Regions from separate parts of the Homo sapiens genome. Here all the other regions are linked to region 3. The links come from fine-mapping of genetic effects on gene expression. A gene starts in region 3. Each other region holds a variant in brackets. All regions are shown on one strand. Distances are between the middles of the regions.

The links. PIP is the estimated chance that this variant, and not a neighbour inherited with it, causes the effect. A credible set is the group of variants that fine-mapping cannot tell apart.
Region 1: its variant is the best candidate, but not a certain one, in a credible set for the expression of CWF19L2 in transverse colon (GTEx, PIP 0.60).
Region 2: its variant is the best candidate, but not a certain one, in a credible set for the expression of CWF19L2 in anterior cingulate cortex (GTEx, PIP 0.52).
Region 4: its variant is the best candidate, but not a certain one, in a credible set for the expression of CWF19L2 in fibroblasts (GTEx, PIP 0.59).
Region 5: its variant is the best candidate, but not a certain one, in a credible set for the expression of CWF19L2 in tibial nerve (GTEx, PIP 0.58).

Annotation. Positions count from the first base shown.
Region 1 is chr11:107,333,034-107,338,143 of GRCh38, reverse strand. CWF19L2 (CWF19 like cell cycle control factor 2) reads left to right here. Exons shown (of 18, transcript NM_152434.3): 15 at 1,431-1,586; 16 at 3,183-3,263. Among named protein-coding and RNA genes, the nearest start is that of CWF19L2, 120 kb to the left of the region's middle. The variant C/T (reference allele first, on the strand shown) is at 2,062.
Region 2 is chr11:107,993,001-107,998,110 of GRCh38, reverse strand. No RefSeq gene overlaps it. Among named protein-coding and RNA genes, the nearest start is that of CUL5, 13 kb to the left of the region's middle. The variant T/A (reference allele first, on the strand shown) is at 2,903.
Region 3 is chr11:107,455,165-107,460,274 of GRCh38, reverse strand. It overlaps CWF19L2 (CWF19 like cell cycle control factor 2), which reads left to right and starts at 2,450. Exons shown (of 18, transcript NM_152434.3): 1 at 2,450-2,563; 2 at 4,499-4,609. The coding sequence starts at 2,459. RefSeq lists an enhancer at 2,166-2,671.
Region 4 is chr11:107,423,355-107,428,464 of GRCh38, reverse strand. The region is part of intron 8 of CWF19L2 (CWF19 like cell cycle control factor 2); the gene reads left to right. Among named protein-coding and RNA genes, the nearest start is that of CWF19L2, 32 kb to the left of the region's middle. The variant A/G (reference allele first, on the strand shown) is at 3,037.
Region 5 is chr11:107,406,689-107,411,798 of GRCh38, reverse strand. All of the region lies in intron 10 of CWF19L2 (CWF19 like cell cycle control factor 2), which reads left to right. Among named protein-coding and RNA genes, the nearest start is that of CWF19L2, 49 kb to the left of the region's middle. The variant G/A (reference allele first, on the strand shown) is at 2,988.

The DNA of each region.
Region 1 (5,110 bases), 120 kb after region 3:
GTGCTATGATCACACCTGTGAATAGCCACTGGTACTTCAGCCTGGGCAACATAGCATAACCACATCTCTAAAAATAAAAGGAGAAGAGAAAGTAAAAGGGTAACAGAAGATCTTTATGGACAGTGTTGGAATTGCTCTCAGTGTTGACTATATCAATGTCAATATCCTGGTTGTGATATTATAGTATAGTTTTATAAGATGTTACCTTGGGGAAACTGAGTAAAGCATACATGGGATCTCTCTGTATTATTTCTTATAACTACATGTGATCTGTAATTACCTCAAAACAAAATGTTTAAATAAAATATTAAAAAGTTATAAATCAAGCTGACAAATCTAAATAAAATACATTTTATCTTCCTACTTAAATATACTTTCATAAACTCTTACAAGGCCAACTTTAGTTTAAAATTCTTAGACAACTTGATCTTGAACTCCTGATCTCAGGTGACCTACCCACCTCGGCCTCCCAAAGTGCTGGGATTACAGGCATGAGCCACCGCGCTCATCCAGAATTCTTAGACAGCTTGAGGGGTTCACAGTAAGACATGGTGATGTGGACGGAGCTGGGCTCTGGCATCCAGCCTTCAGCCTGTTCCCCTTTCTTTCGATCCCTAGCTCCATCCTGTACTACAGGGGGTGTCATGTGAATGCATGCAGACATCCTGGACCACTCAGCTCTATTCAGTCACCCTCTACAAACAGCTGCCCTTTAGGCCTAGGAGTGTGAAATACACACACACACACACACACACACACACACACACACACACACAAAACACACACCTCCACAACTGATTATATTTGTGTGTATAGTTGTATAATAATACTTAGTTCCTTGGGAAGAGAAAACCCTATTACTTTTCAACTTTAGTGTATTTGGCTTTCATATGCTTTATAGGACTGCATTATATGTGAAAATAGAGGACTACCTGAATATACAAGGTTATTAGTGATGGGTCAGCAGACATAGGGAACCAACAAATGCAGATGCTATGAGCATAGGAAAACAATTGGAAGTGAATTCTCATGTATTTCTGAGTTTAAGGATGCCCATCTGCTCAGAGTATCTCTTTTGGCTTATGGATATTTTCCTATGATTGTTCTGTCAGTTCTGCATATTTTACCACCTAAATTTGATTTTTATCACTTCTTTCTCTCATTTTACTGAAACTATTTCTAATATATACATAGTGGGTTTCAGTTTTTTTAAAAGTCTTGCTTAAATATATGAAATTATATAGTAGATTTAGAAAGTAAAGTAACTATAACATTGCAGAGTTCAGATATTACTGTTTATTTTATTTATTTTTCATTTTAAAGGGATTTGTACTTTTTTATTAAAGTTTTCATATTTCAAATATCTTGAATATGCTTGATTTTGAATCTCCTTTAAGTGTTTTCTTTACCTAGTTCTTTTTTTTTTTTAGATGTTCAGAAAATCATTGGTAAAGATGTTTGAAGATAAAGGATTAGACTGCATTTTTTTGGAAACTAATATGAGCATGAAGAAACAGTATCACATGGTTTATGAATGTATTCCTCTTCCCAAGGAAGTGGGTGACATGGCTCCCATCTATTTTAAGGTGTTTATAAGTAGTCTTTGCATATACACTTATTTTTTGCTATAGTGCTATTTTACAAATATTGTTGTCTTTATTAACATATTTTTCTCCTATATACTTACATCAAAATTTATATAAAGAAATGAAATAGGCCGGGCACAGTGCCTCACTTGGAAGGCCAAGGTGGGGAGATCACCTGAGGTCAGGACTTCAAGACCAGCCTGGCCAACATGATAAAACCCCATCTTCACTAAAAATACAAAAATTAACTGGGCATGGTGGTGGGCACCTGTAGTCCCAGCTACTCAGGAGGCTGAGGCAGGAGAATCACTTCAACCCAGGAGGCGGAGGTTGCAGTAAGCTGTGATGGCACCACTGCACTCCAGCCTGGGTGACAGAGCCTGATCTTGGCTCACTGCAACTTCTGCCTCCTGGATTCAAGCAATTCTCCTGTCTCAGCCTCCTGAGTAGTTGGGACTACAGGCATGCACCACTA[C/T]GCCCAGCTAATTTTTTGTATTTTTAGTAGAGATGGGGTTTCACCATGTTGGCCAGGATGGTCTCGATCTCTTGACCTCGTGATCTGCCCGCCTCAGCCTCCCAAAGTGCTGGAATTATAGGCGTGAGCCACTGCACCTGGCCTACACTAAACCTTTTATGTGATCATTGAAGATGCTTTTATATTGAATGTGCTATATTACAGTGTCAAGCCAAGCAACTGGTGCCTTTTAAATAGGTAATAGCACTGTATCTGTTCTATTTAAATAGAACTTATTTGAATGTTATTTTATCTTTAAAATTTGCTTCATTAATAACAATACTGTAAAAACATGAGGTTATTTTATATTTATCACTCTGGCTTTTCTTTCTTTTAAATATTTCTTTACCATAAATAGTAGTCACATTGCTTAGCATAGGAAGTCTTACTCCATTTCTATGTATTTTCTCCCTACATTTTAAAAAATTCTTATTTTTTAAATTACAAATTGACAAATTATAGTTATATAAATTCTGACATCAAAAACATAAAATGTGTGAGGGGTAAATAAAAGCATTGAGTTGCATGCAATCAAAGTTAAGTTGCTATCTGCTTGAAATAGACTTATGCTTCCTGGACTTTTAAAAAATAGGCTTTATTTTCTAGAGCACATTTTTTTTCCTGTATTTTTACTTCTTCATTATATGAGCAGAAATAGTTCAAGACCTTGGTTGCTAGAAAACATGTAAATTACTCTGTTGCCTTTTGGAAGAAGAGCAGTAAAACTAAATGAATTTATTTAGTAATCTCTATGAATGCAGTGCTATAAATGGAACTTTATGATCACAAATTATGTTTCATATTAAATTGATTGGTCTTATTAAGGATTGCCATGTAAAGTTGAGCTCAAGTTAGTATAACAGTTAAGAATGAGTAAAAGAATATTATCTTTGGCTAATGGTAAGATTTCAAAAATTTAAGAAGTTCTTATTTTAAATAACTAAAAGCCTTAATCAGTTCAGAATAATGGCTTACTATGTATAATATACCCCATAATTAATTTGCTATATTACTTGTTATAAGCTGTTTCTTTTTATTTACTTACATGTTCTTTTTTCACTTAACAAATGGATATTTCTTAGAAAGCCATAATGGAATCTGATGAAGAGTGGTCCATGAACAAGAAGTTGATAGATCTCTCTTCAAAAGATATCAGAAAGTCTGTAAGTATGTTTTTTCCTGGTAAAAGAAATTACCCTAGTGCTCAGGATCTTTATTAATTTCCATGTCTTAGTTGACAAAGGGACCATTTGGTTGAGTGACTGAAGGCGAAATTACTAGTTCGACAAATGAAGTTATTTTTATCCTACCTGGTCTAGAAAATGCTTATTTGTTTGTAGAGGGTTTTTATTTGTTCACATGAATGTTTCTTCCTGACCTTTGGCCTTCTGCCACTGTAGTCCCTATAATTGGCTATGGCAGCTATTAGAGTCTGCCGTGAGAACTGCTGTGGTGAGCTTCTCAGCCCCTGTGGGACAAATGGTGAGAAGGGCCTTCCTGAAATATATTGTTCTGCAATTATACTGAGAGAAAAATTTTCCTAGATGTTCCATTTTGAATTTGGAACTCATTTTCTTTTTCTTATACAAAGGTTCACTATTATGTTCCTATAAAACTATAAAATAGTAGTTGAGTTAGATTGTGGGTTCTTTTGGAGACTTGCCTAATCATACCTCATAGTTTAATCTTTATTTGTAGATCAGCTTTTATGTACAAGTTACACTTAAGTTGAGCACGTCTGGTAATGATTTTTTCTCTTTTCTAGAAATACAAATTAAATGGAATGGAATAGAGATTTAATAGAAGTGTGGTTCGTTTTTGTTTTTCTATTCAAAAAGTAGTTTATTCTACAAATATTTATTGTGTGCCTGATATTTACCAGGCATTGTTCAAGATGCTTTTGGTACACAGTGGAACAAAACAGAAAGATTCCAGACTTGATGGAGATTATAGTCTAGTGCTGGGGTTGGCAACTCAAGCCCTGCATGCTAAACCCAGTCTTCTGCCTGTTTGTGTAAATGCACTTTTATTGGAACACAGCCACACTCATTTGCTTAGGTATTGCTTATGGCTGCTTTCATGGTACAAGGGCAGATTTGAGTAGTCCCTACAGAGAACGTATGACCTGCGAAGCCTAAAGTATTTTATTATGTGGTCCTTTTCAGAAAAAGTTTGCCAGTCCCTATTCTAGTAGGTGTCACTGGAATACTTCTCCCCCATTTCTTCTTTTGGAAAGCCAGACTCCTGTTACATGTCACGTAACTAATAGGATTCCTTATTACACTTATTATATTCCAGTCAAAAGATTCCATTTTATTACATTATTCAAGATACATAGTTTTATTTTAGAGGTACAACATTATCTACAATCATTTTCTCTTCTCTGCTGGTGAATTGGGCCAGACAACATATTAAAAAACAAAGTAAAACAAAACAAAAACTCTAAATGTACTGTTTACTTCTCTCCTTTTTGTGCCTATAGAAAAAGGCATTTAATGTACGTACATCTTTTGTGCTACGTTTTTCACTTCTCATGTTATAATTTCTCATGCTGTTAAGTATTCTTTCACAACATAGTTTTAATGACAGTTGAAAATATTTCAAAGGAGAAAAAAATTTGATTTATTAGTCCCCGTTTTCTATACTGTGTATACATTTTCTTACTGGTGAAATGTCTAGTATCTTATTATTTGTTTCTTTTTTAAAAGCTCCATGAGTACCTGAATTAAGTAGCCAGGAGGTCTTAATATTTTAACTTAACATTATGAAACATAAGAAACACAGATACTGTAAAAATGGCAGTTGTATATTCAGTTTTAAAGGATTTCAAAGATAGCAGCAATTGCCTTTATTAAGGCATCACATAGTATTGTATCTGAGACTAGCTGAGGGTTACAGTCAATGAAGGATGAGCCAGATGACCTCTTGAGATCCCTTTTACCTTTTTTTTTTTTTAGACAGAGTCTAGCTCTGTCGCCCAGTGACGATCACTCCACCTCCCAGGTTCAAG
Region 2 (5,110 bases), 540 kb before region 3:
GAGATTACAGGAGTGAGCCACCACACCAGGCCCCAGCTGGTCATTTTTCCCTCTCTTTTGTTTGAATAGAACTTGTGCATTCTGTCATAGGTGGACTGGCTGGAGAACCACAGACCTCCCTTCAATTCTTGAAACTTAGAAGGGACGATAGCCTGAATCTTCCCACTAGGTATACACAATCAACTCAGACTAGCAGGAACAGCCTGTTACATTCACCTCTAATATGAAATTAATTCTGCCAAATTAATCTGCATATTCAATAAAATTTCAATATAATACTTCAATCATTTTTTTAACAGAAACTTGACAAGACAATTGAAAATGTATTAGGGAGATAAAATGTGGAAGGACATACTAAGATATGGGCTTAAAAAAATGTTGAAGAAGGCCAGGCTTGATGGCTCATGCCTGTAATCCCAGCACTTTGGGAGGCCGAGGCAGGAGGATCACTTGAGACCATCCTGGGCAATGTGGTGAAACCCCATCTATACAAAAAAATACAAAAAAATTAGCCAAGCATGTTGGCGGGTGCCTGTGGTCCCAGCTACTTGGGGGGCTGAGGCCAGAGGATAGCTGGAGCCCAGGAGGTGGAGGTTGCTGTGAGCCAAGATCACACCTCTGCACTCCAGCCTGAGTGACAGAGCAAGACCCTGTTTCCAAAATAAATAAATAAATAATAAATTTAGTGACTTAAAACAATACAAGCTTATTCTCTTATAGTTCTGGAGGTCAGAAGGCTAAAATCAAGGTGTCAGCAGGACTGCACTCCTTCTAAAGGTTTCAGGAAAAATGTGTTCCTTGCCTTGTCCAGCCTCTAGAAGCTGCCCAAATTCCTTGGCTGGTGGCTCCTTTCTCCATCTTCAAAGCCAGCAGTGTAGCATCTTCTGTCTTTGATCTGCTCCCCTCTACTTCCATTTACACGTGGTCTTTTTTTTTTTTAACTTTAACCTTCGTGCCTTCCTCTTATAAGGACACTTGTGATTATATTGTGGCCATCTGGAAAAGGTTAAACTCCCCATCCCAAGATCCTTAACTTGATCACAACATCTGCAAAGTCTCTTTTGCTGTGTAAGGTAACATGTTCACAAATTCTGGAAATTAGGATGTGGTCATCTTTAGGGGGCCATTGTTTGTCTTCTACACATACCAGCAACTCATAGTCACTCTTATTTCATGTATACTCCAACCCACTTGTAATCAATAGCGTATCATTTCATTCATACACATTTTAGTATGTATTTCTAAAGGATAAGAGCTCTTTAGAAAAATAATACCATTATCACACCAAAAAGCTAACAATAATGTTTTAATATCACTGTTTAGTATTCCAATTTCCCTGACTGTCACATCATTCCTTTATTTTTTGGAGACAGGGTCGTGCTCGGTTGCCCAGGCTGGAGTGCAGTGGTGTGATCATAGCTCACTGCAGCCCCACTTTCCTAGGCTCAAGTGATCCACTTGCCTCAGCCTCCCAAGTAGCTAGGACTACAGGCACATTCCACCACTCCCAGCTAATTTTTGTATTTTTTGTGGAGATGGGGTCTCACTATGTTGCCCAGGCTCAACTCCTGGACTCAAGCAATGTTCCCACCTTGGTCTCCCAAAGTGCTGGGATTACAGGTGTGAGCCACCATGCCCAGCCACATAAATCTTTTCTGTGGTTGAATCAGGAACATATGATCAACACAATATAGGTGGTTGATATATCCCTTAAGTCTTTCTAATTCATAATCTTCTAAGATGGACACTGAGATACCCCACTCTGATCATCCCTCTGTGAAAGACTTATTGCCCCAGATTCTGGCAGTGCTGTTGACAGGCAACATTCAGCTAGCAGTTTCCTCAGGGATTGCCTCAGTGGCAGAGAGCCACGTTACCCAAGGCCACACCCTTTCTGTGTGATAAGAAAGCCAAACAGCCTTATTGCTGATATGGAGGAAGTTTTAGAGGTCTGGATACAAGATCCAAGCAACCACAACGTTCCCTTAAGCCAAAGCCTAATCCAGAGCAAGGCCCTAACACTCTTCGATTTTATGAAGGCTGAGAGGAAGCTGCAAAAAAAAAGTTTGAAGCTAGCATAGTTGGGATCATGAGGTGTAAGGAAAGAAGCTGTCGCCGTAACTTAAAAGTGCAGGGTGAAGTAGCAAATGCTTATGTAGAAGCTGCAGCAAGTTATCTAGAAGATCTAGCTAAGATGACTGATGAAGGTGACTGTGATAAACAATTTTCAATGTAGACAAAATAGCCTTCTTTTGGAAGAAGTTGCCATTTAGAACTTTCATAGCTAGAGAAGTCAATGCCTGGCTTCAAAGCTTCAAAGGACAGGCTGACTTTCCTGTTAGAAGCTAATGCTGCTGGTGATTTTAAGTTAAAGTCAGTACTTATTTACCATTCAGAAAATCCAAGGGCCCTTAAGAATTATGTTAAATTGGCTGGGTGCAATGGCTTACGCCTACAATCCCAGTACTTTGGCGAGGTTGCAGTGAGCCGAGATTGCAGAGATCGCATCACTGCACTCCAGCCTGGGTGACAGAGCAAGACTCCATCTCAAAAAAAAAAAAAAAAAAGAAAAGGATTATGTTAAATCTACTCTGCCTGTGCTCCAGAAATGGAACAATAAAGCCTAGACAAAGCACATATGTTTGTGGCATTGTTTACTGTTTTAAGCCCATTGTTGAGACCCACTGCTCAGAAAAAAAGATTTCTTTCAAAATGCTACAGTTCATCAAAAATGCTTCAAGAGCTCTGACAGAGATGAACAGAGATGAATGTTGTTTTCATGCCTGCTAGCTCACATCCATTCTGCAGCCCATGGATCAAGGAGTCATTTTGACTTTCAGGTCTTATTACTTAAGGAATACATTTCCTAAAGCTGTAACTGCCATAGCTGGCAATTCCTCTG[T/A]CAGATCTTGGCAGAATAAATCAAAAACCTTCTGGAAAGGATTCACCAGTCTAGATGACATTAAGGACATTTGTGATTCATGGCAGGAGGTCAAAATAGCAACATTAACAGGAGTTTGAAGGAAGTTGATTCCAGCCCTCATGGATGACTTTGAGGTGTTCAAGCCTTCAGTGGAGGAAGTAACTGCAGATGGGATGGAAAAAACAAGAGAACTACAATTAGAAGTGGAGCCTGAAGATGGGACTGAATTGCTGCAATCTCATGATCAAACTTGAATGCATGAGGAGTTGCTTCTTATGGATGAGCAGAGAAAAGTGATTTCTTGAGATGGAATCTACTCCTGGTGAAGATGCTGAATCCTTCATTGTTGAAATGACAATGAAGGATTTAGAATATCATATAAACTTAGTTAATAAAGCAACAGCAGGGTTTGAGAGGATTGACTCTGATTTTGAAAGAAGTTCTACGGTGGATAAAATGCTATCAAACAACATGGCATGCCTCAGAGAAATCTTTCATGAAAGGAAGAGTCAACTGATGCAGCAAACTTCACCATAGTCTTATTTTAAGAAATTGCCACAGCCACCCCAACCTTCAACAATCACCACCATGATCAGTCAGCAGCCATCAACTTCCAGGCAAGACCCTCCACCAGCAAAAAGACTATGGTTTGCTGAAAGGTTAGGTTCATTAGCATTTTTTTCACAACATTTTAGATTAAGGTATGTACATTATTTTTTCAAACATAGTGCTATTGCACACTTAATAGACTACAGTAGAGTAAAAACATAACTTTTATATATACAGTGGGAAACAAACAAAAAATTCTGTTACAGAAGGTGCAGGATTGGAAAACAAAAAAACAAAAAAAGCCTGGATTCAGTAGCTCATGCCATAATCCTAGCACTTTGGGAGGCCAAGGTGGGCAGATCACTTGAGCCAGGAGTTCGAGACTAGCCTGGGTAATTTGATGAAACTTTACCTCTACAAAAAATACAAAAATTAGCCAGGCTTGGTGGCACATGCCTGTAGTCCCAGCTACTTGGTAGGCTGAGGTGGGAGGATCGCTTGAGCCTGAGAGGTTGAGGCTGCAGTGAGCCAAGACTAGCACCACTGCACTCCAGCCTGGGTAACAGCTCAAGACCCTGCCTCAAACACAAAAACAAAAAACAAAAAAAGGAAAAAAGGCCAGGTGCGGTGGCTCACGCCTGTAATCCCAGCACTTTGGGAGGCAAAGGCAGGTGGATCACTTGAGGTCAGGAGTTCCAGACCAGCCTGGTCAACATGGTGAAACTTCATCTCTACTAAAAGTACAAAAATTAGCTAGTAGTCCCAACTACTCTGGAGGCTGAGACAGGAGAATTGCTTGAACACGGGAAGCAGAGGTTGCAGTGAGCCGAGACTGTGCCATTGCATTCCAGCCTGAGCAACAGAGCGAGACTTCGTCTCAAAAAAACAAACAAAAAAAATTTTGTGACCCACTTTATTGCAACAATCTGCAACTGAACCTGCAATATCTCTGAGGTGGGCCTGTATAACCCAGTTAAAAATGTGCTGGGCTTGATAAGGGAGGAAAGAGACTGTATTCCAAAAAGAGCTATAGGACTGCCAATATGTGCTGGAGTATTGTGCATGCTATCGGTCTCTGAAGGTGTTTGATCAGCAGGCCAGAATATAAGGTTGAGTGAGGAAAATTTTATTGATTTTGGAGCTCTTTCATAGGATATTGGATTTAATGTTTTGGCAAGAACCCGAGGAGGTAGTGCCAACTTTCTCTGTTGATGCCTTCTAGAAACATAGAAAAGATGATGTCCACACTAACCGGAGTTAGATGCCAGATGCCAGAATTGTTGTGACAGGTGGGTTTTTCTTTTCTTTTTTTTTTAGATGGAGTTTTGCTCTTGTCTCCCAGGCTGGAGTGCAATGGCACGATGTCGGCTCACTGCAACCTCTGCTTGCTGGGTTCAAGTGATTCTCCTGCCTCAGCCTCCTGAGTAGCTGGGATTACAGTGGTGTGTCACCACACCTGGCTAATTTTATTTGTATTTTTAGTAGGGACATGGTTTCACCATGTTGGTCAGGCTGGTCTCAAACTCCTGACCTCAAGTGATCCCCCGACCTTAGCCTCCAAAGTGCTGGGATGACAGGCGTGAGCTACTGTTTCTGGCCTTTTTTTTTTTTTTTAAACACTTGCTATGGACTAAGGCA
Region 3 (5,110 bases):
GAACCACTTCACAAAATACTTATTATAGAAGGAAAAGAGGTACTTTACAGCAGAGAAGCTCTGCAGATGCCAGTTTATTTAAATGATCAGAATTAACATCACCTGTAATGGAACAAATGGAAATCATGCGCTACCCAACAGGATGCAGTAAGACCGCCTCACTTCTGTGATCGTCCTGCTTAAGAGGCCAAATTTGAATTTAATCACAAAAGAACCTCCGACAAACCCAAGTTGAGTGACATTCTATAACACAACTATCCTGCAATCTTCATGAAACTTTTGTAGTTAATTGTGATCATCTGACCTATTTCTGGATCATAGGATTTAAATGAAAGAAACTGAACTAGGCTTTAGGAAAAGCCATCATTTTTCTAATAAAAAATGAGGCCAGCTTAGCTAACAACGTTTACCCTTTGTCCTTTCTCTTTATTCTTGTTTATCAGATGCCGTGAACAGATGTGAAAGAATATGATACCCTGCTTGTGACTACAAATACTAAAGTCACAGACTGCAACAAAGCGAAAAAGGATAAACTATTTGGCTCCTTCAGCAATTGCACCAAGCCTGGACCAGTTACTTTTAGGCTCCTTGTTACGTTATCCTTTATTTGATTAAGCCATGTGACTGGATTCGCATTAGGTGTGGCCAAATGCAAACCTAGCCAAAATAACCTGCTTTTTCTTTCTTTTCTTTTCTTTTCTTTTTTCTATTTTAACATATCTAGTTCCCCTCTCTAACCCCAACTTTTTTTTGGGCAGTTTTATTTGTATTGCATGGTATTTACAAATTAATTGAGAAATGATTTTTTATGATGTTTTCTTCTTTAAGCACATAGTATACCTCTCCATTCGTTCTAGTCTTTTTGGGGAGCTTATGCAAGATTTTAAAGTTTTCTTCATATAACTTTGCACATTGCTCTAGACCGAATGTTTGTTTCCCCAAAATTCTTATGTTGAAATCTAATCCCCAATGTGCTGGTATATGGAGGTAGGGACTCTGGGAGGTGATTAGGTCATGAGAGCAGCACCCTCATGAATTCCTATAAAAGAAGTTCTAGAGAGATCCCTCTCCCTTTCCGCCATATGAGACACAGCAAAAATACTGCCCTCTAGGAACCAGGACACACCTTCACTAGACAGCAAATAGCCCAACACCTTGATTTTATCCAGCCTCCAGAACTGTAAGACATACTTGTTTGTTATTTATAAGCCATCCATTCTATAATATTTTGTTATAGCAGCCTGAACTGATTAAAACACACACGTTTCTAATATAATCACAGTTTATTTTTATTGAATTGATGCAAAACAGTGAAATGGATGTTTTTCTGAATTCCAAGAGAATCTGAAAAGACGTTGATGCTAGTTATGACAAATATCAGTCAATGTAGTCAGTTGATTAAATATTACAAGGTCGATTAGTAAATTACATTTTAAAATAAAATGAATACTTTCTATTGCATATCAAACAAGTAGGCATTGTGTGTTCAAGATTCAGACTCATAGAATGGTAGTGAATGTAAAAACTCTTGGAAAGCTTCTTGCAAACACACATTAAATTTTATGAAACCTGAAGAGAAAGAGTATTTACCTCAACCTGGCTTATGTTACTTATTTTTAGCGTCTTTAAGGTATCGTTTATAATTAATTCCCCAGCCTTCTTCTTCTTGTAAATGTAAGCTTAGTGTCTTATGTTCTCAAAGCACTTCATCACCTTAGAATGTCTTATTCTTCTGAACTTAAAAGTTTTATGTTTGGGCGATACATGCGTAAAACAAAACAAAGAAATCTCCGCAGAAATAAATAAGTAACTGTCCATTGTAATGAAAAATGCTTGGATGGATAAGTATGAGTAAATAATATGGGGTCAGAGGAAAAAATATAATGTAAACTTCTAACAAGTTAAGCACGGGTAAATTGTGAAGTGCAATGCAAAATTCACATGAGTGTTTCATATATTAAGTAAAATCCACCAAAACAAAACACTGAATCTTCAAGGCAATTCTGTCCTTCCTGCCAGCTGCCACTACCTTTCTGGCAGCCTCCCTTTATCCCATTCCTCCAGCACAGGGAAATGATGCTCTGGCGACAAAGGGTACTTCCGCAGAAAACTTTTGAGAGGTACCAACTTAACTTCCAAGAGCTTGTAACTTACTCCGGTGATTTTAAGACGAAATTGGTGAGAAAGCTGTTAATATAGTAAAAAGTGCATAATAAATATATACGGGTATTAATCCTGCTCACAATCGCACCCAACACCTGAAAGAATTAAACCCTCCAACACCCTTCGGGTCTTTAAAATCTGGGCTGCGGTAATCCGAGCCCTAAGCGACCTCAGATGTGCGCATGCCCTGTTGGTGGAGCCGTGCTCCTCCTTCCTCGGGTCCGGAAGTCCCGGTTTGTTTGTTAAATTACGACCGTCGTAAACTAGAATTTTCTTGCGGCTTCTTAGCTTTACGATGGCAACAAGTATGGCGGCTGCTAGTGGTAGATTTGAAAGTGCGAAGAGTATCGAAGAGCGGAAAGAACAGACCCGGAATGCCAGGGCCGAGGTGTTGCGCCAGGTACCTCTGTTTTGGGGCTTTTGTAGTTATTTATTGTTGTGGGAGTTGAGGGTTCCCGTAAGCTAGCCCACTCACCCCTTCCCTTACCTCGTCAGTACTGAATCTCACCTTAATTTGGGTGAGTTCTCCCTTTGCAATGCCGGTAAACCCTTTTGTAGCTACCGATTTTTTAGATGTTCTGGCAGGTGCCAGTTGCTAATTCTCTTTTCAGGCAGATCTGTCGCTTTTTCTCCAAGTTTCTTTACCTTTTAAGTTACCCATTCTTTACATTTCTATCACTCGGACTGCACACTTTGTAGGTCCCCTGCGGCTTGTAAGGACTCTGCCAGCATGTCTCGCAGCCTCAGTCATTGCTACTGCTGTATCTGAAATGAGATTTTCCTTTTTCGGAAACACATTCAAGTCACACTTGAATAGACTCAGTTTGACATTTCCTCCTCCTGTCTCTATTGGTATCAATTCCAGACTTACTGTAAGCTCTTACCAATCCAAACAAAAGTTAACACCAATCTCAGTATATTTAGCCTGTCACAAAAGATCGCGAAACATTGTATTTCTCACTAAACTTCAGATACATAGAGGTAACATACAAAGAATGGAGAAAGTAAGCTTCTGAATTATCTGACAATCTATTCAATATGTAAGAAGTGTGGCAATGAAAGAGAAAAGTTGCAGTTGGAGAGCAACAGAGAATTCAGTGAGGGTTTTTGTTTTTATTTAAGTTGGAAGAGTTTTAAACAAGTTTAAATGCAAATGAGAAGGAGCCAGCAGAGAAGAGGGAGAGGAGACTCTAAAGGGAAAATGACATAGTTTCAAAATTTGGCAAATAATTTGAGGGTGAAGCAGCCCCATTCTCCTTTAATCTCCAATTTTCTCACCCTGTTCTTTGGAGTCCATCATAAGCCCTGCTCTTTTCTCTGATATCGATTTTTCTGTTTGGTATATAACCATTGTATTCATCTTCTTGCCTACACCAAGAATTATTATATGCACCCAGGGAAAAGCTAGCTGCAGAATGTTGGACTACCTCTCCATGATTTTCCCTTTTCTGGAATATTAACTCTTCTAGTTCTTGTTGCTTCAGCAGTTCTCTGATATAAACCTTTAATAAATTATTTTTATATTTGATTAAAAAAAAAAAGAAAATGACTACAGCCAGGTTTTAAAGGGGAAGAGTGGGCGATTAGTCTTGGGTAGGTGAAATGTTGGTATTGTTTCGTAATTTCAACATATGTAATGTGTGTGTGTGGGTATATATATATTATTCATTCTTTTCTCTTTGGTATTTCCAGCAGTTTTTGGAGGGAGTAAGTTTCGTAAGTTGAGATAAATCTTATAGTAGAGATATGCATAGAATTTGAAAAGGACCAAACTGAGCTTTGGAGTTACAGGGAAAGAAAGAGGGCAGGAACGATTTCCTAGGAAAAACTTGCTTTGTTTGACTATCATTGAAGAATGGATAAAAATTACCAATATGATCCTTTCTTTATACAGAGATGATTCTTCCTGAGGCATTTTTGGGGCTGGGTATTGGGGCTACAGGCATTGCATATTGAAGGCGTGGAGGTCTAACTGTTGCAAAAGTCTTAAGGCAGTAGCCATGGGAATGGTGAAGGGAAAAGGGATTCCAAGTCATATTGAGCTAGGGAGCTTAGAGAGATGGGAGGGCCTGGACTCAGTCCCTGGATTCTCTCTGATTGGTAACTCAAATCACTGGAGATTGGAAATGCAGAAGGAGAGATTTTTGCTTTGTTTTGTTTATTTATTTATTTTTTTATTTTTTTACACTGGAGAAGCAAATCCCTGGCAAGGAATAGACATTCATTCATGAGTGGATATTTTTGTATAAAAATGACAGAGGTTTTTGTTTTCCTTTTTTTGTGAAACCCAGTTGGGTCAATTGCCAGTTTGTCTTTTTTTTTTCTTTGGTTGTAGGCTAAAGCCAATTTTGAAAAAGAAGAAAGGCGTAAAGAACTTAAGCGACTTCGGGGTGAGGATACATGGATGCTACCTGATGTGAATGAGAGAATTGAACAGTTCTCACAGGTGAATACTAACAGGTTTACGTGATGTAAGGATATCTGTCCTTTTTTGCACGTATTCAAGTTAATATTGGATGAATAATTTTATAGAATGTTTTCATAAGTTACAAAATGAATATCACATAGTTGGCATTGCTGAATAGTTTCATCTCTTTGGCAGAGGTAAGATATTGTAATATTTTGGACATTATGACTCAAGTTTTGTTATTTGAGTTTGGCTAGTAGAAGACAGCTTCAAATTTCTGGCCCACTATAGCAAGCTTATAGGCCTAAAAATTTATGCATTTTAAGCTTTATGTATTTATTTTATTTTATTTTTTTAGGTCTCAAGCCTGTTTTCCTATAATTTTTTTAAAAATTATTTTTAATTGACAAATAATAATTGTGTAAATTTATGGGTTAGAGTGTGATGGTTTGATCTATGTATACATTATAGAAAGATTCAGTCAAGCTAATGAACATATCCATCACCTCATCAACTTATTTTTTTGTGGTGAGAACGTTA
Region 4 (5,110 bases), 32 kb after region 3:
CTAAGGAAATTATCTTATTGTTGAGTATAATCATAATCATAAATACTGCATGTCTATAGGAAGTCTAGGAGACAAAAGGAAAACACGCTGCCACGGCCCAAATATAAAGTGACAAATACATGCCAGAGATCTTGCAGAGGGGAGCATGAATTATGGTTGTTATTTTGCACAAAGAAAGAAATAATCCACTTTGGGCAATTGACAGATTTTAAAGATAATATTAGAGTTTTAAATATAAAATATATGTTGCATTTATGTAGGGCTGGGTTAGAAGATGAGGAAACCCAGGTTGAATGGGACTAAACCTAAGAAAATTTGCTTTAGAAATTTGCTGGCCCTGTTGGAGATAGCCAGAAAAAAAAGTGTCCAAAGGGTAACAACTTACACGTGAATGATCATTAAAATATGTTTAAAAATAGCACCAAATGAGTGGGACACTAAAGGAAGAGGTTTTAGGAAATAATAGAAACACATGGTTGTAGTAGATAAAAGCACTGTGGTTTGGGGTTGTGAGTCTGATAAATCACTTTTGTTAATGACTCCATCTGAAGCAGTGGATTATAAAACTCAGTGTGTAATTTTCGGTGGGAGGGAGCTGGCAAAATCTGAACTGAGTGATTAAGCCCCAGTCAAATGGACTCTGGTTCACATCAGGGCTTTCCTCCCAGGAAGTGGAAGGAGAAATCCAATTGTATTGACTAAACAAACATGGCAGGGATTATTGTCTAAGGCTGTATGCATATGTAATTGTCCAGTCTTCACTCCAGGTGCCCTGGGTGGTAGACTATTTCCAGTTCCCAGTCACTAGGGGAATGAGGCTCTTATTTCCTGATATCATTAGGATTGGGTTAGCATTTGGATGATCTGTAGGCCTTCTTCTGTGACTGTAGCTAAGCAAAATGTCTGCAAAGTAATACCACACGATTAGTATTCCAACCGGTTGTCTGATTGCTGCATATTTGTATGTCTTATTTAAGTTGTAAGCTTCTGATAGATACACTATAATACAGGCACTCACTAAAAGCTGTGTATGTATATAATTTTTCGGTTTGAAGACAGCACTCACTAAAAGCTATATATGTGTGTATATATATGTATGTATACATGTAATTTTTCCTTTGAAGACAGTATTCTTTGTTCGCTGTGTTAATTTGATGGTACAGAGGGTTTGAGGCTTTCTATGAATTCTGTGACTGGCTGGAGAGGGAAAGAAAAATCTAGGAATCATCCAAAAAAAAAGATTCCTGAGAATGTAGAGTGGTTGTAAAGTAGGAGACCAAGACAGGACCTTGAAGAATGCCTAGTTGTTACAAATAATCTTTGTCTTATAAGTGAATGGTCATGATTGGAAAAATTAGTTGAATTAGTTTTTACTTCTTTGTATGTATTGTTCATATATCTTTACCTTTCTTGTTATTTACACCAGTATTATTTTTTAGAACATGCCATTTGTAATCTTAATAAATGTATATGTATAAAATTTAAACAATATAGACAGAAGAGTATAAAACAAGAATATGAAGCATAGGTGAGTATAAAATGAAAAAGTAAATCTCCCTTTCATGTCACTTCCAACCCTAATCCTATTTGCCAGGTTAACAGTGTTGGTAGTGTCTTTCCAAATTTTTTAGTGTATTTGAAAATGTGTAATATATATATTTAACTTAATGTATAAAATTTTATAAAAACATAACTTATATATTTAATATATGTAAGTTAAATAGCTCTACAATGCATATACCATTCAAAATCTTGGTTTTTTTTCCCAATAAGTATATCTTAAAGATCTTTTTACTTTAGCCCATATGTACCTACATTTTTTTATTTTAAAGGCTCTTTAATACTCCATTGTAAAACTTAGGCATAACCTAATATTTTTCACTGGTTTCCTATTGATGGAATTTTAGGTTGTTTCCACTTTGTTGCTCTAAGAAACAATTCCGCATTTAATTTTTTGTGAGTATCTTTGCATGCTATTTAAATATAGCTGTAAAATAAATTCCAAGGAGTGGAACTGTCAGGTCAAAGAGTACATGCATTTTACTTTTTACATATTTTGCAGTATTAACCAATTTAGACTTTTATATTGCATTGGAATGACTTTTCTCCTACTTCTTGCTGATAGTATTATTGAACTTTTTAAATCTTTGCCATATGTGTAGTTGAGAAACAGACTCTTTGATTTTTATTTTTTTAAATATGAGTGAAGTTTGCCATATTTTTATGTGTTGTTTATTTGTATTTTTTTGTTAACTAGTCATATGTTTTGCCCTTTTTTTGAGCTATTGTTTGTTTGTGAGAGCTCTTTATATTTGTCATGTAATACAAATAGATTTTTCATCATTTGTAAATTTCCTTTCATTTTTCATTCTTTCTTTAATGTGTTCAAATTTATCACTCTTTTTCTTTATTCATTTTAGGCCCTGCGATTATGTTAACTAGCAGAAAAACGTCCACTGCCATGCAATTGAGAACCTTGAGCTTTTTATTATTAGAAATGAAATGTGCTTTTGCATATATTTTTCTTGTGTTAGAAAATATATTGGCTAAGTATTTCCAGGAATTTAAAACTTAGAGGAGTATGTAATGTGAACAAAAATTAATGAGAAGTCCTTAATTTTGGTTTTACAAATTTAATATCAGAAACTAACCCATTTTATATAATATTTTAACCTTTGGATGTCATTCTTGGCAGAGTTTGTTACTGTAGCCCAGAAGGGCAAGCAAAGGATGCTAGATTCTGAAGGCTTTGAGTATAGTTGTGAGATCTTTAAGCAAGGAAGCAAATATGAGAGCAGCTGGTAAATAAGGGAGATCTGTGAACACTGCCAGCACAAGAATAATAAAATTATATGTGGCTTAACAGTGGGGATATATTCTGAGAAATTGTCATTAGGCAGATTCATTATTAGGTGATGTCATTGTGTGGACAGCGTAGTGTGTACTTAAGCTTAGTGCATACCTACACTATATGGTACAGCCTGTTGCCTCTAGGCTGCAAAGTAGAACATGTTACTGTATTGAGCATTGTTGGCA[A/G]TTGTAACACAATGATAAGTATTTGTGTATCTAAACATAACATAGAAAAGGTCCAGTAATAATACAGCATTATAATCTTACGGGATTACTGTCATGTGGTCTGTCGTTGAGTGAAACGTCGTTATGCTATGCATGACTAATTTCAGGTTTTAAAAATGTTACTGGGCTAGAGCTCTTTTAGTTACTTATTTCTCAAAGGTTTTCAACCTCTTTGTGTGTGTGTGTGTGTGTGTGTGTGTGTGTGTGTGTTTCAAAGAGAGTACATTTTAATGTGAAAATAGGATTTGCTTTTTAGAAATTAATTATAAAAAGGACTTCTGAAATATAGCAGTAATTCTTGAAATTGAGACATGTTTGGGCTTTTTTTCTTTTTGCAGGATAATTGCAGGTGTCATGGTGATGTTTCTTTCAAAGCATTTGCTCATCATTATAAACACTTGGGGAAAGAAAGGAAGAGCCCATTCCCTGATGTTTGCTGTAGAACAGTGTCTTTGCTGTGGTGTTCACAAAATAAAATAGAATAATATTTTCTTCAGTTACTTTGTGCTCAACAACTTTCATTTAAATGTCTTTACTTGACACCTATTACTGTTACATTGTGTTCAAGTAACTTAATGTTGAAATTACTACTATAAAAGATGTTCAGAATTCTTGTATATTTTTGTCATTTATCCTCATCTACTAATAAACAATTTAATTCTTGTTAGAAAATACTAAAAAAATTGTGTGGAGCATTCCATTTCATGACAATGGAAATCACCTCTTTTAAAGATCTATTGAGATTCTAGTTATCTTCTGGAACTCGTGGGCTTTAGATGCACTTCAGCCTACCTTCATTGCCCTTCCTTGATTGAATATCTAAACTTTTATCCTGGGAAGTGAGGGGAAGAGGAAAGTAAAATGACAAAGATGTGCGCTTTGGATGGATAATAACAAACTTCTTTGGCTACTTAATCCGGGCTTTTTTTTTTTTATTATAAAAGGGTGTATAGAAGCCAGATTTTAGTAGACTAAATTATTAAGAGTTATGGAATGGTAGAGATAGAAAGTGTATTTATACTAGAACATGTTTATATTTAATGGAAAAGAGTCAGTATCCTTTTTAGAAGAAGCAAGACAGCTAGGCAGATGATAGATGGGGCAACTGAGCAAGATCCCTGAGGTTAGTATGGGTGAGTGTGGGGTCCATTTCAGTTATAAAAGTAGAAGGATTAGCTTTGGGTGGAGATAGTTAAAAAAAAAAAAGAGGGAAATGTGGCTACAGATTGTGGGTGACAAGGGAGAAATTTGAGGAATTATTTCTTAATGACTTAATGCCAGTATTTTTTTGACATATGATTCCCAGAATATTGGTGATCCCCTTGATCTATATATGGAGAGTCAGTTATGATTGGTATTGGTATTATAAAGAAACAACTTCTAGTTCTTCATGAGAAGCTCACATTAGAAACTGAGAATTTGATTAGTACCCTGTTTTTAGGTATTTATACTTTTTTTTTTTGCTCATATATATTAGTAGGTATCTATTGTCATATTGACATTTGATGTAGTCGTTTGTGTTAATAATCCTCAAACATTTCTCCTCAAGAGAAGGAGATGGATTGATGGATGGCTTGGTCTTTAATTCTTCTGATCCTGTCAGACTTAAGGTTGCTTGCAAGATGACTTATTTCTGGATATGGAGCTCAATAGGAGATTATGTGTGGACTTGTTCTACATCTGGTTTATAGTAAGCATCTATTGGAATAACAGAAAGGATTGTAGAAATACTGCGTAAATAGCTTCGTTATCCTAAAGAACCTTTCTTTGGTTCTTTGGTTTCTTAGTTGGCCGATGTTGAGATGAGAAATGGAGGAACTAGACATAACTTTAGTTGGAAAGAAAAACCTGGTCAGGTACAAATGGCAGAAGGAAAAGAAGCCAAGAAGTTTCTCACTTAGGAAACAAGAATTTGAGAGACAGACCCTGGAGAAAGCGACTTCATAGGGGAATAATTGCACTGGTGCTCTTTAGAAAGGGCATGAACTGTGGTTATTTAATTTGTGTTATACATACATGTAAAAATGTAATATCT
Region 5 (5,110 bases), 48 kb after region 3:
TATCATATATTCTAGAATAGAAAAACCAGTGTTTTTGATAATCAGGTTTTTAAAATATCCGAAGGGGCATTAAATGTATGAGAGCATAGGAAGGAATACTTAATTTTAATTAGTATATTTATTAAATTTATTAGCTTAAATAACCTGCCCTTCCTTAAGCATTAAATGCTCTTGGTAAATTTAGCAAATCACTCAATTATTTTAAGAAATAATCAGACTAAAATTCTTTACCATTTTCATGGTTAGCTTAATTAAATTATAAAATTTTAAGCTGTTATTAGTTTTGTATAGCTTATTCACTTAAGGGTTTCAAATACGTTCAAAAGACAAACACACATTCTTAAAAAGTTATAATGAACAAGTCATTATAAATGAACGTGAGTGCCATTAAAAATGTGTTTCCTGTGTTAAAGTGAAATAAATTTTATATCAAAAAAGGTTGCAGAGCTATTACTATACTTTTACTTAAACACAATATAAAAGGTTAAGTTTGATTTATTTCTTAATCTCAGAGTTGCAAAGTTACTTAACCATCTAAGGGAAATTAACTGTTTTAGGCAGGTTAAGGTCCTTCCATAGCAGGAGAGATCTTTATAGAATTAACAGAATAATGGGTCAGAAATTTGAGACTACTGTATGGGACCCTAACCAATAAGAATATACCTTGCTGTTTTATGATAGTGTGTGTGTGTGTGTGTGTGTGTGTGTGCACGCACGCGCGCACACACACACCACACTCTTATAAAAGCATAGACCTAAGCCTGAGATTTTTGTGTTACTTCTTGTAGTCAAGCTTTGCTGACCCTACCAAATAAATTGACCATTTTCTTCTCATTTTTTGACTAAGGTTTGCTATGTCCCACCAGATTTTATTTCATACACCTCCTAAAGTGAAGTGCTTTTTCCATTATTCTGTGCAGTTGTTTAATGTAAAGTCAGTTTTCAAAGTATCTTAGGCAAGCAAAAGGAGCCACATAGAGAAACCTTGCTTGAAATGTTAGAGCTGGTTTGCGGCTTGGAACAGAAGGAAAACATTTGAAGCAGGTATTCTGTTAAATAACATTTCTCCTACGGTTTTGAGGATATGACTGAATAATTGACAGGCTATATCTCATCCCTTGTGCACATGACTCTGATATTACTGATTGTTTTTTAAATTTCTAGCTCCTCCTATCTTTGAGCAGTGGACTTCAGTACTCAGTAGATTAGTATTCGAAGTATCATACGAAGTGTTATTTCTGCTTGTTAGTCCCTTTTGGGAACTGTATAGCCCTTTGAAACTTCAAATAGAAAGCTTTTTTTTCCCCTAAGGATTCTTTGACCAGAAAGGCATATTTTCATCTTCTCTGCAGAGAAGGTTCAAGCACACTTGCACATCTGGTTCAAGCTTTACTAAGTATATATATGTATAAAACAAATCTTTGCCAAAAATTCTGAAAGAATTCTCTACTGCAACTAAAGTAATTTATTCCATCAGATCCAGGGCCTTGATTACCTTTCAAAGTGGTTTTTTTTTAGAAATCAGAGTGGAATACAAAGTTGTTTACTACTATGGAGATTTGATGACGTTCTAGAGGAAAATCATGGAATACTTCTGATGGAAATTTTGCTCTTTGAGAGAAAAGAAAACCCCATGCATAGAACGCTTGAACAGCGAAGAATTCTTTCATTGCTTAGCTCGTTTGTTGGAAGTATTAAGTTACAGGAATAAGGTAAATCTCTTCATTCACATATCTATGAATACCATTTTGGCTTTAGTGAAAAACCATCAGCACTATTAATTATTAGTTTCCTTATCCCTCTTCTTTAGAGGGTGAACTATTTAGTATTTAGGACAAGGGTTATTCTTTCAGTTCATATCTAGTACATAGAGTAATACTTGACATCTTGTAGATGACCAAGACATACTGAAATACTTGTTTTATGAATGTCTTTAATTTATTTTATTCTCTGTAGTATTTTATTGTAAATCTTAAAAATGATCCATGATCTTTCACATCATCTAGTCTGGCCATCACACAAGTACAGCTTCTTTATTTTAACATTAAGCCCACCACATAGCTTCTCCATCTAACTTGTGCTTGAACACTGAGTGATGAGGTCTCACTGAGTTTTGGATATTGCTAGTTTTATATCAGGAAAAATCCAATCCTAATTCTTTAATATGTTAGTCCTAATCTGCCCTTCCATAACTTGTGCCTGTTAATAATCCTTCAATGGAGTCACATTATGTATACATTTAATCTAAAGGAATTTAGCTTTGTACTTTATAAGAAAAGATAACGCAGGAAATTAAGCTCAACATTTGTAACAAAGAATGAAATAATGTTTGCCTAATGGTGTAGTAGCTTTAAAGTTTTGTCTACACTGCTGATAAAGAGGAGAAATGCATTTTGGTCCCTTTGCATGTACGTAGAGGGGGTTTATGGACATTCTCTTTAAAGAAATTGAGGAATTAACTAAGGGCCATAGAGAAACATTAATAAATAAACAGATACATTCATCATTTTGTATATAAATCAGGTACTTGACTAGTTATTTGAAGTATTTCCAGTAGTAGTTTGACCATATTCAATTACTGCTTTAACACTGTCTTTTGGATCTGATTCTTGGGTGCATCGTTCACTGTGTTCACAAGTTCACTTGTCATTGGTGTGATTCCCAGAATATGTGAACTGTTAGACTGTGTCTTTTTTTTTTTTTAATGTTTTAGCATCCCAATCCCTGCAGTTGATCCCCTAAGCACAGTACAACAGAAAAAAAGTTACAAGACTATAAAAAACTTGCTTGTGGTTTACTTTTAATATTTAAACAGTGAGGTTTGACCTTTACTCAATGAATACTTTGCAGTTCCTTCTTTGTAGAAGGCCTTTGCACTCTCAATTTTCTAGGTCAAATATTTTAAATCTAAAGTAAACATTATTGTAGCTTTGCATTTATTCTGTTTACCTTGCCATGTTACTGTAGGCACACTTTTCCTGAGGTAT[G/A]GTCTTGCTTGACACAGAGTAGGTATGCAAAAATATTATTTCCTTTTAGTCATTTAGCTAGTTTTTTCCCCAGCCAAGTAAAAAAGGTCAATGGATGTACCTATTTTCTATACAGTTCAGCTTGTATTTTTTAACCCTCCTTAAAGTATCTGTCATTTCTGTCCTGTGCAGTTAGAAATACCATCTTAGGCATTACTAGAGGGCTTATTTCTTGAAATAGAGTATTACTATAGGAGCAAATATTTTAAGAAAAAATAAATTAAAGAAAATGGTGTATAAATACAAACTAGTATTAGCATGCAGAATCTGTCTGTTCTCTAGTCTCATACCTCACATAAAATTCATCGTGAAATGGTGACAATTTTACCTGCTAAATATTTCTTAACCCTCCTCTTTGTTTTTTATATCTACCACACTAAGATGACCATCATCTCTTGTCTTGACCTCCTAAGTAGCTATTTTCCCTCCTGCCTCAGTGCCTTTACAGTCTTTCTTTGCCTAGAGTATTTTTCATGTAGTTACCTTCTGTATATCCTTGAGATCTTAATTCAGACATCATATACTCCTTATAAAAGCTTTCTTTCAGGAAAGAGAACATACAAATAAGATTAATTATATAAATATATAATTACAGTCCTTTGACGGTCCTTCAAAGGAAAAGTATAGAAATATGGAGGTATTGAACAGGGCCTAGTGCAATCTGGGCATCCAGAGAATGTTCTGAGGCTATAGCCATTATTTTGGGATCCTGTTACCATTTTGTAACTTTGCCAAAGGAAAAGCTATTCTATTTATGACTACTATCTGTAAGCCTTATTTGTTTACCAGAAAAATAATCTTTAGCATGGTATTATCCTAGCTGGGAGTGTTGACCTGTAGGCTTCAGTCATGGAATAGGAAACACCCACTCATATGACTATAGGATGTATTTAATTCTCAATGCTTTCTGGGGTAGTTAAAAAATTTTTTTTATTGTGTTATGAACAGTATTTTCTCAGGTCTAATTTGGAGAAATTGTAGAGTAGTTGTTTTGGATAGTTATGATTATATATTTATTAATGATCTAATTTTGGGATGAAGAATTATGTCATAGACTATCTCAAACTTTGAACAGGGCTCTGTAACAGATACTGAAGCCACAACTAATTGATTTCCTTAGAGAGGGACCCAGCAGCAGCCTCTCTCCTTCCTCAGTTTGCTTCTATTCCCTCAAATGCTCATTATTTTTTTCTCACTAACTCTACTATTAGCATTTAATTCCCTTTTCTGTTGTTAAATTTAAGGGAAAAATGAAATATTACTGCATATGAAAAATACTGAGTCCTTATACTGTTCAGTAGCATTTGAGACTTAGGTTTTGTCTTGGACGGATGAATTCATATATGTTCTGTTTCCAGAATTTTTTTTTTTTGGTAGGGGGAAGGGTTAGATGGAGGGACGATGTCACATAATTATATATTTGCAGTTTAAAGGGAAAACATTTTAAGTGGAAAAAAAACAAACCCAAGGTAAGTTTTATCCTTGTACATGTTTTAAAATTAACCATATTGTAGACTGCATAACAGATTGTTGAAGATAGAAATCAAATTTAATGTGCTTTATAAAAACTGAAAATACAGTTTTCAATTTCATAGTGCATAAATATGCAGGTACCAAGAGGTTCTGACTAGAATAATTATAGTAGACAGTTGTTAATGAAGATTGATGAGGAAGAGAAAAAATTAGTTGAGTGAAACTCCAGAATACTGAAAAAAAGGAAAGAAAAGAAAAACACTTGCTATATCACAGTGAATCATAGAAAAATCTTATAATATTTATTATGGTCTTGTCTACTCAAAAATAGTAAATAATCTGTGTGTCATTCTTTAACAGAAAGTTAAGTTATAATTAATATAGCTATTTATTAATAATTAGTAATAATGTCTGTGGCATTAGCCAATAGTAACACAGAAGAGATAAGAGAGAACATAACAAAGAGTAGATACGATATACAAAGGATAGATTAAAAACTGAAATTACTAAAATAGAAAATAAAAAATAAATAGAAATGATTTTTTAAAAACCCAAGAGTTTATTCTTTGAAAAAAGTTAATAGCCTCTAAGAAGGCCAATCTAAAAAAAAA